Regions from separate parts of the Homo sapiens genome. Here region 1 is linked to region 2. The links come from fine-mapping of genetic effects on gene expression. A gene starts in region 2. The other region holds a variant in brackets. All regions are shown on one strand. Distances are between the middles of the regions.

The links. PIP is the estimated chance that this variant, and not a neighbour inherited with it, causes the effect.
Region 1: its variant is fine-mapped to the expression of ARHGEF12 in whole blood (TOPMed, PIP above 0.99).

What each region holds. Positions count from the first base shown.
Region 1 is chr11:120,298,934-120,307,268 of GRCh38, forward strand. It overlaps POU2F3 (POU class 2 homeobox 3), which reads left to right. Exons shown (of 13, transcript NM_014352.4): 5 at 691-793; 6 at 3,353-3,435; 7 at 6,097-6,279; 8 at 6,711-6,852. Among named protein-coding and RNA genes, the nearest start is that of TLCD5, 22 kb to the right of the region's middle. RefSeq lists enhancers at 6,763-7,280, 7,845-8,335. The variant G/C (reference allele first, on the strand shown) is at 3,195.
Region 2 is chr11:120,331,812-120,340,146 of GRCh38, forward strand. ARHGEF12 (Rho guanine nucleotide exchange factor 12) reads left to right here and starts at 4,602. Exons shown (of 41, transcript NM_015313.3): 1 at 4,602-5,464. The coding sequence starts at 5,433. It overlaps TLCD5 (TLC domain containing 5), which reads left to right. Exons shown (of 3, transcript NM_001198671.2): 3 at 1-1,875. RefSeq lists a silencer at 4,189-5,058.

The DNA of each region.
Region 1 (8,335 bases), 33 kb before region 2:
CTGCCATTTAGCAGGGCTTCTCAGGTCTTCTCTATGTGCACAAACCTAAGCTCAACCTCATGGGGCACAGAGCTCTGGCGTCTCCATTGCAGAGGACTCCCCGATCCCCCAAGCATCGGAATTATTAGTCCTATGTCCTGGGCTGGTAGGAGAAATCCTGGACTTTTTGTTTAACTAAATTGGTTTTATTAAGAATGAATAGTTTGCTCCACCCCCCAACTCCCACCCCAACACCCTCCAGGAAAGATTCTGGCCCAGGAAACAGCCGAGGCATGGCTTTTAGCATAACCAGGTGGCATGAGATTTAAAAAGAATTGGATAGTTGGGGATTGCATGTTATCTCTAGGATAAACTTTGAGAGATGGGTCATACCCAGGCTTTGCCTTCAGGGCATTTTATAGTCTAGTTGGGAGACAGGACTGACACATACAAAAATTAACTCAGGAGGCAAGGGTTAAGTAACAATATGTAGTAAGGACTCCTAGGCTGAGGGCAGAAGCTGTAACAATACCAGTGTTAACGGAGTAGCTACTATTTGCTAGACACTGGGGATACACAGTGGCATAAACCAAGGTCAGCCTGCAAAGTCTCTGAGTCTGGAGACCCCTGGGACGGACGAGTGGCAGGCAGATGGGGCTGATGTCCCCAGCTTGTAAATTCTGTGGTGTATGTGTATCTCTCCGTGTGTAGGACATGGCTTCCCTCCATCCGCTCCAGCAGCTTGTGCTGGTTCCCGGCCACTTACAGTCTGTATCCCAGTTCCTGCTATCTCAGACCCAGCCTGGGCAGCAAGGTAAGAACCCTGGGGGTTTCCACCTAGACCAAGTCCAGTCAAGTGCTGCTGTTGCTGCTGTTTTTTGCTGGGTGAGGGGGCCTAATTGGAGAGCATGCGTCAGTCAGTCACCCATCTGCTATTAAGACCTACTTATCCACCCCAGGGTCTGAGGAAGGGACCCTGGCAATGCTCCTCCAGGCTTAGTCTCCTTCTCTGCTTCCCCTTCCCAGCCTCCTGTTGGGTGGTCTGGTCCACCTCCTCAATTTCGTGGTGAGTGGAGACGGAAGGTGCAGGCGTGGAGCAGAGCTATGCTGTACAAGGGAGGGGAAGCGCCCTGGGAAATGCAGTACAGACAAGTCCCAATTCCTTGGAAATCTCTCCTGGACACAGATTCAGACTTGCTTCCTGGAAGCCTGGCTGTGATTCTATTTGGAGAGAGCAGCAGTGCCACCCACAGGTTGTAGAAAGGGTGTTCAGGTTTTCTTTGGCAGGGAAGTTACTCGCAGAGAACTTCTCCCTGGCCAAGAGCAAATAGATTGAACTATTAATAAATAGCTAACATTTCTTGAGCATGATGTGCCAGGAGCTCTTCTGAGTAATTTTTCTGACATTCCTCAAAATAACCTTGTAAAGTAGGTAGTTCTATTATGCCTCTGGTGACCTACTGGGAAGTTCCAGAACCGTTTAGCTGAGACCCATACTCTTGGTCATCACAGTGTGCTGCCTGTCCCACTCCCATCTCCATCAGCTAGGGTCAAAAGTGATGGAGGGTTGGCCAGGCTCGGTGGCTCACGCCTGTAATCCCAGCACTTTGGGAGGCCGAGGTGGACGGATCACTTGAGGCCAGAAGTTCGAGACCAGCCTGGCCAACATGGTAAAACTCTGTCTCCACTAAAAATACAAAAATTTGCCGGGTGTGGTGGTGCATGCCTGTAATCCCAGCTACTCAGGAGGTTGAGGCAAGAAAATCACCGGAACCTGGGAGGCAGAGGTTGCAGTGAGCCAAGATTGCACCACTGTCCTCCAGCCTGGGCGACAGAGCAAAACTCTGTCTCTGAAAAAAAAAAATAATGGAGGAAGTATAAACTCTCTCCTGTTGCACAAATCCCAAGTAGAGGTTTTGGAAATCCAGAATCCAAACAAAATGCAACTCTGCCTTCCGCCCTTAGCACCTGCACAAATGACAGTCACTATCCTTAGTTTCCAAGGCACCTCAGAATATTATGGTGATGAATGAGACCCTATTTGAATTTTTAAGTGTTTATTTTGGTTAAAAAATAAACATCATACTCCTGGAATGGAAAAGGGAAGGTAACAGTTTAATTTGTTTTCAGAAGACTGGAGAGCGACATGAAAATGGCCCAGGCTTATAACCACCTAGGTCAGTGTATGATGCAGTGGTGGAAAGACACTTCCAAATTTGGAGTCAGAAAAATTTACTGGTTTCTTTAAAAAGTCACTTACTAACTGTGTGTTTTGGGGAAAGTTACCTAACCTCTCTGAGCTTCCATTTCCTCTTCTGAAAAAATGGGATAATAGCAAGGCTCTGCCTCATGAGATTATTGAGAGTCACTTGAAATAATGCATGTGAAAAGGCTGTATCCATTTCAACCGCCATGTCAGAATTGCCATTAGTACCCAAGCCTCTCAACTCCCAGTTCTGGATTCCTTGTAAGAGCTTTCTTGCCTATGTATTTTAATAATGAACAATGAAGCCCTGACTTTTTGAAACTGAAGAGCATAAAGGTCAACATCAGCAGATGCTGTATGTACATTGTGACCCAGAACAGCCTAGGGAAAACAGAGACCCCAAAGTGCTGTTGAGTGACAAGCGATTGGGATGACCAACCCCATTGTCTGCTTTGGTGGTTTGATGGCCCCACTCCTGCTGGGAGAGTGAGCCACCAACCAGGCAGAGTCCCTCATGTACCGTTTTCCTGGGGAGGATGGAGAAGCCGGTATAATACATACTGCCCAAGGGAGTTTCCAGAGGCTCAGCCCTGGACTTTCCCTCCTCTCTCAGCCCTCTCTCCCAAGTATAAAATGTCCTGGTCAGCCACATGCCTCTGGCTAAGGCCCACTGCCCTTTAGAGCCGTATGGTCGTATCTGCTTGGTCTGGCATCCTCGCAGATTTGATTGGGCCTCTGTAGCCATAACCCAGCTACTTCTCCTGCAGGGAAAGCCAAAATCCTCAGCCCTAGCTTGAATTCTCAGCAGCCACCCTGCATCCTTTCCCTTCTTGGTTTTCTTCAGCTCTGGTAATCAGATCCCAGAGTAGATCGTCTTGACCCTCCTTAGCCTCTACGCCTCTCCAGACAGGCGGGCAGGTGGAAGGACTGGTTTGGGGACTGCTGTTTACATGTCTGTTTATCCCTGTATCTGATTTGCCTCCACCTGTATGTGGCAATGCCTGGCAGT[G/C]CTAGGAGGGCCTCTCCATGGGACTTGAGGTGGGTGGAGGGACCTGATCAGGTGGCAGGGGGTGGGGACAGTGATCGTGGTGCCAAAGTTGTAGCACATGTGTTTCAAATAGCCTGGATTTTATTTGTCTGTTCCTTTGTCCCTCCCCTTTCACCCAGGTCTGCAGCCAAATCTCCTCCCCTTTCCACAGCAACAAAGCGGTCTCCTCCTCCCACAGACTGGGCCGGGACTGGCATCCCAGGTAAACAACCCCATTCTTCCTGTTTCCTCTAGGAATGTCTCAGCTCTCACTGAGTTTAACTCACTGGTTTCCCCCTACCCCTTTAACAGGGCACTAACCCCTCTGGGGAGAGGGGATAGCAGGGAACTATCCATTGGCACAGGGGAAATCCAAGCTACAGCAAGTGGGGGGACAATTTACCAAGTGTCACTGGTGGGGCCACAGTTAGAATCCAGAGATTCCAGCTCCCAGGCCAGCCTCCTTCATGCTCCAGGCACTGAACTCCAACCCTGCACAGGCCCCAGCATTGCTCCTCTGAGAGCCAGGCTCAGCTCACTTCTCAGGCATACCAAGATGGCCACGAACCCTACCTAGGTGCTCTCAAGCCCCAAGAGGGAGACTAGAATACTACAGACCTGATGTCCCAGACCACAAAGCCAGTGTCTTTCACCTCTGGGCCACTATTCCAGATTGCCTCCTGCAGTGGGCACGTATATAGGCCAGTGGGCTGAGGTCTGGGAGAGGGGTTGTTTGCAGAGCTGCCATGGTTCCACACAGCACCTTTTTTCCAACTAGGAAAAAGGCACCTCTTCTGGCCAGGTGCAGTCTCATGCCAAGGTGGACAGATTGGCGACAGCAGCATGAGCTGTATCTTAGCTGCCATTCCTCCCCTGATCTGGGTGCCCCTGTACAGTTAATAACCTGCACAGCTGCATGAGATGGCTCTGCACAGATGGTTGGGCAGAATGGTTGGGAATGACTGCAGAGATCTCTGTGCTAAGATCCCCATGGCTCACCAAGAGCCCGGCCTTCAGAGAGGGCTGAGGCCACTAAAAGTACCTGGAGGGGAAGCTCGCCATCTAGTGGTTGAAATGGGGACACCAGCATCATAAGCTGCTCTTCCGCCTCCTCCTGGCTGCCCTCTCCAGAATCTCATAGCCATGGGCTTACAGCTGGAAGAGATCTTAGAATCTTCAAGATCAACTCTCATCTCTTATCATATTTTGGCATGGAGAGACTGGTAGCAGAGAGACCACATAGAAGATTATGAAGATCATCCAGGGGAGGGGTCATAAAGGATTGGCTTAGAGTTGTGGCAATAAGAAGAGGGGATGATTGAGGAGATGCTTTGGGAAGTTGAATCAGTGCAGTTTGCCAGTGGATTGGAGATGAAAGGAGGAGGGAGAAGGTCTAGCAGAGAGCCCCATAAGTCTTTGTCAAATGAAAGAACAAATGATTTAATGAAAAGGAAGGTTCAAAGAGGACTGGGGCTTTGTCCTGAGGGTCTGGTCTATGCCACACTCTCCTCACACACCCTCTCCCTGCAAACTAAGACCAAATTCATGATGGTTTCAGACTAAAAGACCCTTCACTGGGGGAAAGACTCCTAAACTTCTCTCTAGAGGTCCTTTTACCTTCTTCATCATAAGGATACCTATCTGAATGGTAAACCCAAATATCCCAGAGGAGAAGAAGTAATGTTTAGTCTACAAAAAGTAAATCAAAAAGGAGAGAAGAGGTGGATTTAGCCCTTTGAGCTAGCTGGCCACAGTGCCTGGACCCCTAGGCCCAGATTCCACTCTATCCTTGTGGAATGATAGATGTCCTTAAGATCGGATTCATTCCTGACCCCAAATAGGCACAGCATGGTTCTAGGTTTAAGGGTACGTTTTCCTATGAAAATAAGCTCAAGAAATAATATTTGGCTGGGCACGGTGGCTCATACTTGTAGTCCCAGCACTTTGGGAGGCCAAAGCAGGTAGATCACTTGAGCCCAGGAGTTTGAGACCAGCTTGGGCAACATGGTGAAGCCCTGTCTCTAAAAAAACAAAAGTTAGCCAGGTGTGGTGGCACACGCCTGTAGCCCCAGCTGTTCAGGAGCCTGAGGCAGGAGAATGACTTAAGCCCAGGAGGTTGACGCTGCAGTGAGCAGTGATTGTGCCACTACACTCTAGCCTGGGTGACAGAGTGAGATCCTGATTCAAAAAAAAAAAGAAGAAGAAGAAGAAAAAGAGAGAAAGAAAGAATATCTCCTAGCAACCCAAATGTGATCAAGGTGCATTTTATAAAGGTACTGATTAAAATACCTTTGATTAAAAACAAAACACTTTCATGAAAGAAAATGGTGGTTTAGAAAGTAAAATGAGGCACAAGAGTTTGACATTTTAGGAAAGTTCTATGAAGGCCATGAGTTATTGGATGTCCCCTGTTATCTTCAGTTAATGCCTGTTCAACACCTCAGTTACCTGCTTTATGGAAAAAAACAAAAAACAAAAAAACAAAGCAAGCAACCTTTTCTTTGTCCAGTTCTGTGATTTGTTTTTGGAATCTTTGTAAACAACCCTGCTAGCTCCTTTTATGGTAGAAAACTGAAAGGAGGAAGTAACCTGCTAAGACTCAAAAAGTGAGTCACAGGCTAAACTCAGGCCACCTCCCTATCCTGCACTCCTGATGTTTCTACCCAGATATTCCAGTTATTTGCTATACATTTATAGAAACTTTAATTTCCACTTCCATGCCACTGGAAAAATATAAGACTCCAATGTACCCAGGGTGTATCCAGGGATCTGTCATCCTCTAAGTGGGCCTATTAGTAAAAAAAAAAAAAAAAAAAAAAAAAAAAATCAGAAAATGTTATTTATTGATCTTCGTGGTGGATCTGCTTGGCGTGTTTCCTATCAGGCATTTGGGCACCCTGGGCTGCCAGGATCCTCTTTAGAACCCCACCTGGAAGCATCCCAGCATCTCCCAGTGCCCAAGCATCTACCCAGCTCTGGAGGGGCCGATGAGCCCAGTGACCTCGAGGAGCTGGAGAAGTTTGCCAAGACCTTCAAGCAGAGGCGCATTAAGCTGGGCTTCACACAGGTTTGGTTTTAGGGGAAAAGATAGAAGAAGTCTAGCCGAGCGGCTGGAGACTGGGCTTCCCAAGTGCAGGTTTCAAGAGCGACCAGAGGCTCGATGTGTTTGGGGTCTCCTCATCATGTCCCTGAGTTCTCTGAGAATAGGGCACAGTTGCCATTGGTAGGGAAACTGAGGACGTTGCTGGTGGAGGAGAATGAGAGGTGGAAAAGGGGCTGGCTCTCCTGAGCACGTGGGCGTGGTCCACTGAGAGTCTAAGGAGAGAAAGAAACCGATTCTTCACCTTAGAGGGAGGAGACTTGGAAAGGAGCCGAGCATGGGTGAGCACTCAAAGATTCAGGCTGGCTGTGTGATCGATGCTAGGACCATGCAGGATGTGGGCAAACAAGAGGAGGAGGCTGCCTCTCATGTTCCTCCCCCTCGGTCCCCACGCTTAGGGAGATGTGGGGCTGGCGATGGGAAAGCTGTATGGCAACGACTTCAGCCAGACCACCATCTCACGATTTGAGGCCCTCAACCTGAGCTTCAAGAACATGTGCAAGCTCAAGCCCCTGCTGGAGAAGTGGCTGAATGATGCAGGTAGGCCTCGCAAACACGGATGCCAGGGGCCCTAGAGGGCTCTGCAGGGAAGGGCCAGTGACTTGTCGTGTTGGGGCTTTTGGGAGTTTGATACCTAACACCCCCTTCTTCTCCTGAGACTGGAGCCGATGGAGAAACAAGACACAGGACACAGGCAAGTGTAGATGAAAGTGTCAGCTCGACTACTGAGAAGCCCTCAGAAGGATGTGGATTTAGGTCTGTGTCCATCAGGATTTGTCCCCATTCCATTCCTACCCCATCCCACCCAGCATAGATCTTAGGACAGCTTGCCAGCAACAAAGTCTGGATCTGCAGAGCAGATACACTTATGCAGATTGCTGTCTGGAATAAGTCTAGTCAGGGATACAGGGCAGTGGGGCCTCTAGGGTCTCACTGGGAGGGGGAGACCACAGGCACGACACAGGGTCTTTCCCTGGGTAGTTCTTGAGGAGGTTTTCAGCAGACAGGGACTTACTGCAACCCATGCTGGTCAGGAAAGCCTGACAGCAGGAATGGGGTTTGCAGGAGGACTCAGTGAGGGGTGGTGGCCGGGAGGCAACCCAGGAGATCAAGCGTGTAAGCCAAGGGACCTCACATTTGGCAGCAGGGACTAGCATACAGGATGGGGCTTCTCAACCTTGGCACTATAGACATCCTGGGCCAGGTCATTCTTGTTACCAGGGACTGGCCTATGCATTGCAGGATGTTTTGAGCATCCCTGGTCCCTACCTACTAGTTGCCAGTAGCATCCACCCCCAGTTGAAACAGCCAAGAATCTCTCCAGACATTGCCAAATGTCCCAGGGGGAGTGGTGGTGATGCAGAGTCCCCCCCGGTTGAGAACTGCCGGCCTAGGCAGAGAGAGGGAGTGAGCCAGTCTCCAGGGCTGGGCTCTATTCAGTCGATTCATATGGATTCGTGGTTACACTGGAGAGGGAGAAAAGGGTGGGGCAGCCAGCCAGGGCTGTTACTCATACGGAAGGGCCTCCACACGCAAGCATGGGAGGGGGCAGGAAGCTCCCCCTACAGGCTGTCCCTTAGACAGCCTTTATGGAAGCACTGAAATGAGCGAAATGATCCGAAGGTCTTCGAATCTCTGGGGAAGGGCCCTGTGACCATTCCTAGTCTCCATCAGATGCCTGAATCCTTCCTCAGGGATATCCCTCCTATGGCCCCTACAGCCTTAGCTCAAACATTTGCACTGGCAGGAAAATGACTCCAACACCAACAGTCTGTCACCAAGTGCCATTGCTTTTGGCTGCAAATCTCATTTCACATTTCACTCAGTATTCACATCCAGGCATATCTGTAAACAGCAGCCTCACGAGCATTACTCACAGGAGCCCTGCCAGTGCCCCCTTACACCCACATGTGTCACCGATGCATGAGCATCCCTCAGCTGTGACCCCAAACACTGGAGACACTGCTGTGGGGGCCACAGAGGGCCATGGAGGGTCACGGAGGGCCACAGAAGGCCATGGAGG
Region 2 (8,335 bases):
TAAATTCCATAGGGATTTATCATGTGGATTCCACTGTGCTTGAGATGGCAGTTTAGATTTCAGCTCTGCTGTACATATTGCAAACTAGAGCCAAAGACTTTAAAGTGTGTACTGGCCTCAGGGGGATGAGGTTAATTTTTTTTTTTCATTTTAGATACTTTCCCTTTTAGTACTCCTCCTACTTTTCTTATTTTTACTAAAAAGGTACCACTCTATGAACAAACTAATAAAACAAGGCCAGTCTTGGAAGGAAAAAAATAATAATTCTTAGTGTGACAGTCTCCAAGAGAAGCAAGAATATAAGCTTAGAACAAGGGGTTAAGAATCCAGAATTCCTGGGTTCTTTTAACTAATTTTGCTACTCACTTGCCACTTTGGAGAGCTACTCACTCACTTTGGATAGGTTACTTGTTTCTTCTTTGCCTGAGTTTAAACCTATTGTGAATGAATGAAATACCCTGTAGTATATTTCATAAATACATTATGTGGCATTTTATTAATGGAGGTCTTTAATGTAGGGCTTTTATGGAAATATGAAGTATTTATGTATTTATTGATTATTTATTTTTACCATGTTATTGAAGTCAATGGTGTTTGATTAGCTCAGTGGGTGAGCAAGCATATGGTGCTACTGGAGTCAAGGCTGGTCAGTAGGAAGCATCAGTCCATTCCATGGCCACTGGTAATCTAACGTAATGAATGGTGTCTTTTGTTGTTGTTGTTGTTGTTGTTGTTGTTTGAGACAGAGTCTTGCTCTGTCGCCCAGGCTGGAGTGCAGTGGTGTGATCTCAACTCACTGCAACCTCCGCCTTCTGTGTTCAAGTGATTCTCCTGCCTCAGCCTCCCGAGTAGCTGGGACTACAGGCGTGTGCCACCATGCCTGGCTACTTTTTGTATTTTTAGTAGAGACGGGGTTTCACCATGTTGGCCAGGCTGGTCTTGAACTCCTGACTTCATGACCCACCCGCCTCGGCCTCCCAAAGTGCTGGGATTACAGGTGTGAGCCACCGTGCCCAGCCATGAGCGGTCTTGAAAATGAAAAATGGTCTTGGCCACAGAAACCAGGTATGAGGGAGTGGTTGGAATGGTATAAAGTCATCACTGTTAGGGAAACAGTAACTTTAAATGCATGTTAACAGTGGGTCTTTAAAAATGAATGTCATTTGGTTAAAGAGTTTTGCTGGGCATTGAGATAATCTGACAGCATCTCCACTTCCTGTTTTTTTTCTTAATCTCCACTTTTTTTTTTTCTATGATGAGCGCCCCTAAAATGCTGGTAAGCTTCTTTCCAACAAAATTGCGGTCAAAGTAGGATGCTGGGGAATGCTGATTTTAGCAAAAGCTTGTAGAAAAGAGTGGCCTGGCACATGAGCTTAAAAAAAAGAAAAAAAGCTGGCTCTTGAATTTTGGCACAGTGCAACCTGTTCCATACCAGACAAATGAACAGGCTTAATCTGGTACCAATTCTTTTTCTCTCTTACTCCTCAGAAGTGAAGGGACTGCAGATCTTGTTGTTTTGGGGACACTTTCATGGAACTGTATGTAGGTTTTTTTGAATGGTGAGAAATCTGAATAATTGGTAAGGGGAAGGGAATCCCTCATTTCAGCTTTTCTTGATGTTGTTACTAATAACTATGAAAAAACTTCTGAGAGAACAATGTGAACTGAAGATGACTCAGCAGTTAAGACAATGCTAAGTTCTGAAACCACAGGTAAATGAAGGGCTAATTAATGTGTGGTATACTTGGACAAAATGAAGTACTCATTTGCACTGGATTACTGTGTAATGATAACGAACACTGTTCAAGAACGATTTATATTTCCATAAGATTTGTACTAAATTTTATAAAAGTAAAACAACTTTTTATAAACCCAGAGTCTGTCTTTATATTTATGTGGTGGTTTTGCCAAGAAGTTAAAAAAAGCCTTTTGACCTGTAGAAATGTTGACCTGTATTCATACTTACTAGTGAATATCTCTAATCTGCTGTTCATTATCCATCATTCCCCCTATTTTTTTTTATTTTGGGGGGTAACAGTTGACATACACAAAACAGTTTGCCAAAAGAGAGAGGAAGAACCTTAATGTGTTTCTTGTTCTGCCACCTGTTTGGACACTTGTCTTGAAAATGTTGATGTCAAGTGAGTTGACATCAGAGACATCATCTGAAGACAGCTGGAGGCCCTGTCTTGAGGACTGTACTACCAATGCCTAAAACAGTCTGGGATGCATAGTAGATACTTAGTAAGCATGTTGAAAGAATGGACAAGAGGATGAGAATGTGGTTTAGAATCATCCCCATTGGAAAACCTCCTCAAAGGTTTTCCCAGTGGATTGGGTCATCAATGTCATTTTTCTAAGTAAAGTACTACGGACCCTGAGGAGTGTGTTCTACCCAGACTGGCTTGACTTTCTGAAGGCATCCTATAGTTACAGCCTTTAGAACAGTTGAGCTATCGGCAGCTTTAAAGAGGCTTTCAGTTTTTTTTTTTTTTAAATCATTAATGCTTTGTAGGTGACTATAGAGATTTTCATCATTTAAAAAAATTAGTTCTGGAATGAATAACCACTGGCTTAATTCAATCTTTTGCTTACCATCTTCTGAAGCTTTCCCACAGCAAAATGCCTTCTTTGCTCACAGCTAGAACCGTGGGTCTGTTTAAGTTTGGAAAGATCTTGAAAGCAGCTTGCCAAGAGGTTTTGTATGCAAGGAAGAGAAGGTGAATTAGGAAACTTTCCCAGTTTGTTTTATTCCTGAAGCTTAAGTATTGAGGCTTCCCTCAAGTATTAAGGGAAGAGAGGAACTCCAAAATGCATGATTTGATGAGTCATTGGGTTCAATTAATTTTATACTTACACTGTAACATTATTAGGATAGGGGAAAATAAGATATTTAGTACTTTTAAGAAAGATTTATTAAGTTTGGGGATAAGGTTTGCATTTTGGTCAGTATATATATGTATATATGTGTGTATATATATGTGTATATATATGTATATATATGTGTATATATGTATATATGTGTGTATATGTGTATATGTGTGTGTGTGTGTATATATATATATATATATATATATATATATATATATATGAATGGGATTCCTTCCGGTTGCATGTAAACACTCAATTTAAGAGTCTTCAGGGTAGAATTGTCATGCTAGAATACACCAGCAGGTGGCAATGTGTCCTGGTCTCATCATTAGGGAAGTGCCTTGGCTAATCTGCTTCTATTCTTTCCAAAAATAAACATTACAAAATTAGTTGGCTGTGCCTTGAACCTAAAAAATCGAGCAATAAAGAGTCGTCTCTGGTCTCTGTTTATCTTTTCCTTTTTTTCCCCCCCGTTCTAACTAACGTCAGCGTGAGCTCATGCCTCTATTCGGGGATAATGATCCTTTCATGAACTGTTGCGGAATGACTTTTTGCAACAGCATTGTTAAGAGGTAATTGTTTCCTCTCTCCACATCCACTGTTTATTAGATTTGATTTGCTACTTGGATTCCACAAAATGGCTGAAATCCCTTGTCACCAACATAGGTTTAAGCTCAAAAGTCTGAAAATAGTTGGATAAAGGGAATAGCCACTTTGGATGTTTGCAGGCAGAACTGAAGAACTGTATTACATGTGGTACCTAAATTGCCAAAATACTGAATTATTCAATCATAAAACTAGATGGGTATCTAAAGCTCTCTACCCAGTAGGGGAAAAAACCGAAAAACCGTTTGGGAATCCTTCAGAGAGAACCGTAATGCTATTTACTGGATAAATATACTTCATTTTCTTCTCCCAGTTCTTTCCACAACACGCTTGTTAAGTCGCCATGGAAAGCACCATGCTTTATCAATTTGGCAAATAACACATTTCATTTTGCCAAGGCAGAAACAGCCTAAAAGTAATATTTATACCGAGAAACCCTGGCTGCAGTCCCCAGCTGCTCTCCCGCAGCCCTGCGCCTCCGGCTCATGCAGCGCTCTCCCCCCGGAGCCGGCAGGTGCCCAGGTGAGCGGGGCCTGCGGAGGCAGCGAGGGGCGCCGGCCGGGAACCGGCAGAACGCGTGCAGCCAGAAGACAGGAGAGATAATACATTCCCTTAAGTAATAAAAGTTTCCAGGACAAGGGGGGCTGGTAATTTTCAAAGAGCCTCCCGGCACGATGTCCTCGGGATCTGGGGGGCGCTCTCGGGCGGTCTCTGGTGAAAGTCGACTTAGTACAAACTGGACTCGAAGGGGCATGTCTCGGCACTCAGGGGCCCAGGCGCCGCGGGAGGTGGGTGGGCCTCCCGGGGCTGCACGGGTCCCACCTCCCTCTGCCCCGTAGGACTACTTTGCCGCTCTCCCAAACCGGGCTCCGGCGGAGGCGTCCGTTCAAGGGCGAGAGCGCGGCCCTGAGCGGCGGAGGGATCCCGGGTGAGGCGGCTTCCCGAAGTCAGAGGGGAGGGGGCCATAAAGTCGGCGGGGGACGGGAAGCGCGAGCTCGCGCCGGACGCGGCCAGGGCCGGGAAACCAGAACCGGAACCGGAACCCGCGCGCGCGCCCGCGGTTGCGCGGCCCCCACGGCCGCCGGCCTCCTCCGCTGTCTGCGCGCGCGCCCGCGAGGGCCTCCAGAACCCGGCGAGCCGGCCCTGCGCCGGGAGACGCCGCCGCCTCCGCCTCCCGGACCAGGGCTTCCAGGCCGGGCCGGACGGGCATCTCCCGCCCCTCGCGGGGAGCGTCGGGGAGGAGCCGCCGCCTCTGGCGATTGCGGAAGAGTCCGGGCCTCAAAGGGATGGGGAGCAGTCCGCGGCGCTGAGAGACCCGGGTCCCTGTCACCTCGGGCCGCGGGACCTCTCCGCCGGCGCCAGCGGCTCGTCCCAGCACCGGGAGCCTGGTGAGGGCGGCGAGCACAGAAGGAGCCCCGGGCCCGGGACATGGAATCGCGCGAGCCCGGCGCGGGACGGCCGGAGACGCGGCCAACGCTGCGGCCACGAGCAGCCGGCAGCCCCAGATAGAGAGCCGGGAGGGAGGGCCCCGGCCCTTGCCGCGGCGGGGAGTTCGAGGCCCCGAGACTCCGGAGGAGGAGCCGACACCCGTCCGTGAGCTGATCCCGCCCCAGCCCCGGCGGGAGTCCCGGGTCCCCTTCCCACTGCGCGCGGATTTCCCTCTCTGAGGAAGTTTATCCTTGTGCCTTCTGGAGGATTTCTCTCTAGCTCGACTCACTCTGGACTGACTCGCTCCCTGGCTTTCTCAGTTCGTTTTGGGAGATAACTTGTTTTGCTCCAAGCCGCATCCGTTGACCCCTTACAGTCGGATGGTCTAGATGACTGAATGGAGTTTTGAGTTGGACTTTTGTGTCCCTGACGGAGTTGGGCCTGATCCCAGAGCACTGGGGGTGGGGAGGAGGTGTTACTGTAAAATGCAAGTTGGATAAAAGGAGGACCTCTCGCCAAGGGCCCCAATGAGTGGCACACAGTCTACTATCACCGACAGGTTGGTATGAATTCCTCCTTCGTTCGGCCTCCCGGAATCGGGCCCGACCTAGCAGGGGAGTCGGTGATTGCAGATTGCCTTTGGCCAGCGAAGTTGACAGGCAGAGGAAAGAGGGTTGTTTCGGAGCTGTGCAGTTAGCCTGGGGTTGCTGCCGAGTTATCCAGTTGATTGGCTTTTGGAAATGTAATTTTTCCGGAGAGAAACTTCCCTTCCGATTCTCAGAGAAGGGGGAGGCAAAACCATGATTGTGGTTTTCCGCCTGTAGTGTGCATTAGGATTGTGTACTCGTCTGGAAATCAGAGGAGAAGGTCATTTTAGGTGAAGGTCGGTGCCTGAAGTCGGCTCGGTATTGGTGTATTATTTATCAGCTTTAGCCGTGTCCTGCAGTAGATTCTCAAGACAATTACATTTTAGGAATTTCTACCTGTGAACTTAATGTTGAGCCTACTGCATGGTGATCTGGGAACTTGATCTCTTTCAGATGTTGACCTGCACGGTGTTTAATTATTATCTAATAACTTTCCAGAATGTTGACATTACCAGTAAATCACAGGTTCTTGCTGGAAGCAATGTCCAGGAGCTGAAGAAATGAGGGTAAATCATGGGGTTTGCTTTTAATTCTTGTATTTAAATATTTCGTCTTCCAGAAACACTTGGCGTTTAAGAGATATAAGCCGTAAGCATAGTGTAAGCGCGCAGCTGAATTTGTTGAGTTCTGTGTCTGTCCTTTATAGCACCTACCAGTGTTGCATGGTGGTGGGTGGCGAATTGAGCTAGACCATGTGTGGTTGAAGTGCAGTTTGCTTATCCTAAGTTACTCTTGTTTATAGGGTAAGGGATAAAAAGCATATTGATTCCTTGACCACATTTCATTCTCAATTTAATTATGACACTGCATGCTAGTCCCAAATTTGTCAGCTTGCTTTATTTTTAAGTCAGTCTTCGAATTATTACACCGTGAAAAAATAGATCAAGTAACTGAATTAGAGGGCCAAAGCTCTTTGATGAAAAGTGCAACAATAGTGCTTCTGCACAAAGTAGTCTTAATTTCCTAATAAGAGTTTTACCCAATTGTAAGACTCATTTGTTGATTTTAAAAGGGCCAAATTCCATTATCATACCATAACAGCTACTCCAGAAACAGAACTTCCTCTTCCTGTTGATGCTTTCCAGCATCACATGAATGTTCACTTAAAAGAGTCTGTTAAATATTTAAAGTATTTATATTTACTCTTTGTGTATTTTTCAAAGTGGGTTTTCATTTTCAATGAAATAATTTTTAACTTTTCCAAGAATACACTTAAGATAAGTATTGACAATGCTTATCTTACTTTCTTCTGGTTATCCCCATTTTTTTCCTTTCAGGGTGTTTTGCTTCTGAGAAATCACTTTTACGGGTGTGGGGATAATTGTTTTCCTGCTTCATTCAATTCTCGCTCTTTCTGTTGAGCCTGTAAACAAAAGTCTTGCTAGGAACTAATGTAATGTTGGTTTTCATTGCGATGCTGAGGTGTTTAATTTATGGAAACAGAACGGACTCATTCCACACACAAGTGAGTGAAAAGCCCTCAAGTAATGGTTTTTCTTCAGCATTGCTTCTCAGGGATTTTCCTTGTCTTCTCGTTATCTTGGAAATAGAATCTTGGAATTTGTATCCTCTTTATAACGTAGATGGCATATAAACATTCAATAAATATGAAATTACTGAAAGCCTGTTTCTTTTCTTTTTCTTTTTTTTTTTTTTTTTTGGCCAGGCACTGTGCAGGCACAAGAGATTACAAAATGAATATTGTAAGATTAATCTGCAAATTGGTTTGGGCATTAATGTTTTTTGAACTGGTTCAGGTGCTGCTGCCTAATTTTACATTTTTTTTTTTTAAAGAAAAGACCTTGGAAAGCCAATTAATAAGCACTGCTGAGACCTGTTTCGTAGGATTTTTTTTTACTAGGGTCTTTTTTTATTAAGAATTATTCTTATTTGACCACATTTAAATATATTTTGTAAATATAAAGCATCCATTTGCTGTTAAGAGAGTAGTTGTTCCTAATATGAATATATGTTGGGGTGAAATCTGGAGGTACTGGTTTAGTATTATTTCTCTGCCAAGGTGTCTTAACAAAGTTACGAGTATATAATAGTTTCTAGCTTTCTGTCAGCCCTACCTCATCCTTTTTTCGTAGTGTCTAACTCTTACTGTAGGTATATTTTGCTGACTCTAGAACTGTTGGAAAATTAACAGCACCAGTGTAGCTTTTTAGATAGAGATCCTTTCAAGTTTGAAGTGCTGTATGTGGTATGGCTTTGTTTCGTAGAGTGTGCAGAACCACCAGGCCAGCTGTGTGAGTTAGAGTTCTTTCATTGTGGTGCTTCTGACTACAGAGTCTGTCTGTCCTCAGTTGAAATCAGACTAGCTGGTTTTGGGCGTTGTTCTGTTTTGCAGTTTGTGGCAGGCGACACATGGCTGAACAAGATAAGGGTTTTATTCTTGTGTTAGGGACGTGCTGGGGCTGGGATGGAATTCAGCTATGTTTAGGCTCTGATTGGTCACTTTGGATACTCAGAACTCTGTTACATCCTGTTATTATTTTGCAGTTAAATCAACACATTAACTTGCTCTCTTCTCTTTCCCTTCATCTTTTACTCCCCAGTCCGCACCCCTTAAAACCTAAAACTCAAACTTTTTAAAAGACTTTAAACTCAAACTATGTTCATGGTAGCTATTACTTCTATGTAGTATATCCAAACAGCTTTAAAAAAAATGGTAAGCAATTTATGAGCCCTGGAGTCTGTAGTTTTCATCGTTTAGAATGAGCACTTGACAAGTGTAGAAATGTCTGATTGCTGCTTTTTAGTCTGCATTGATTGCTGCA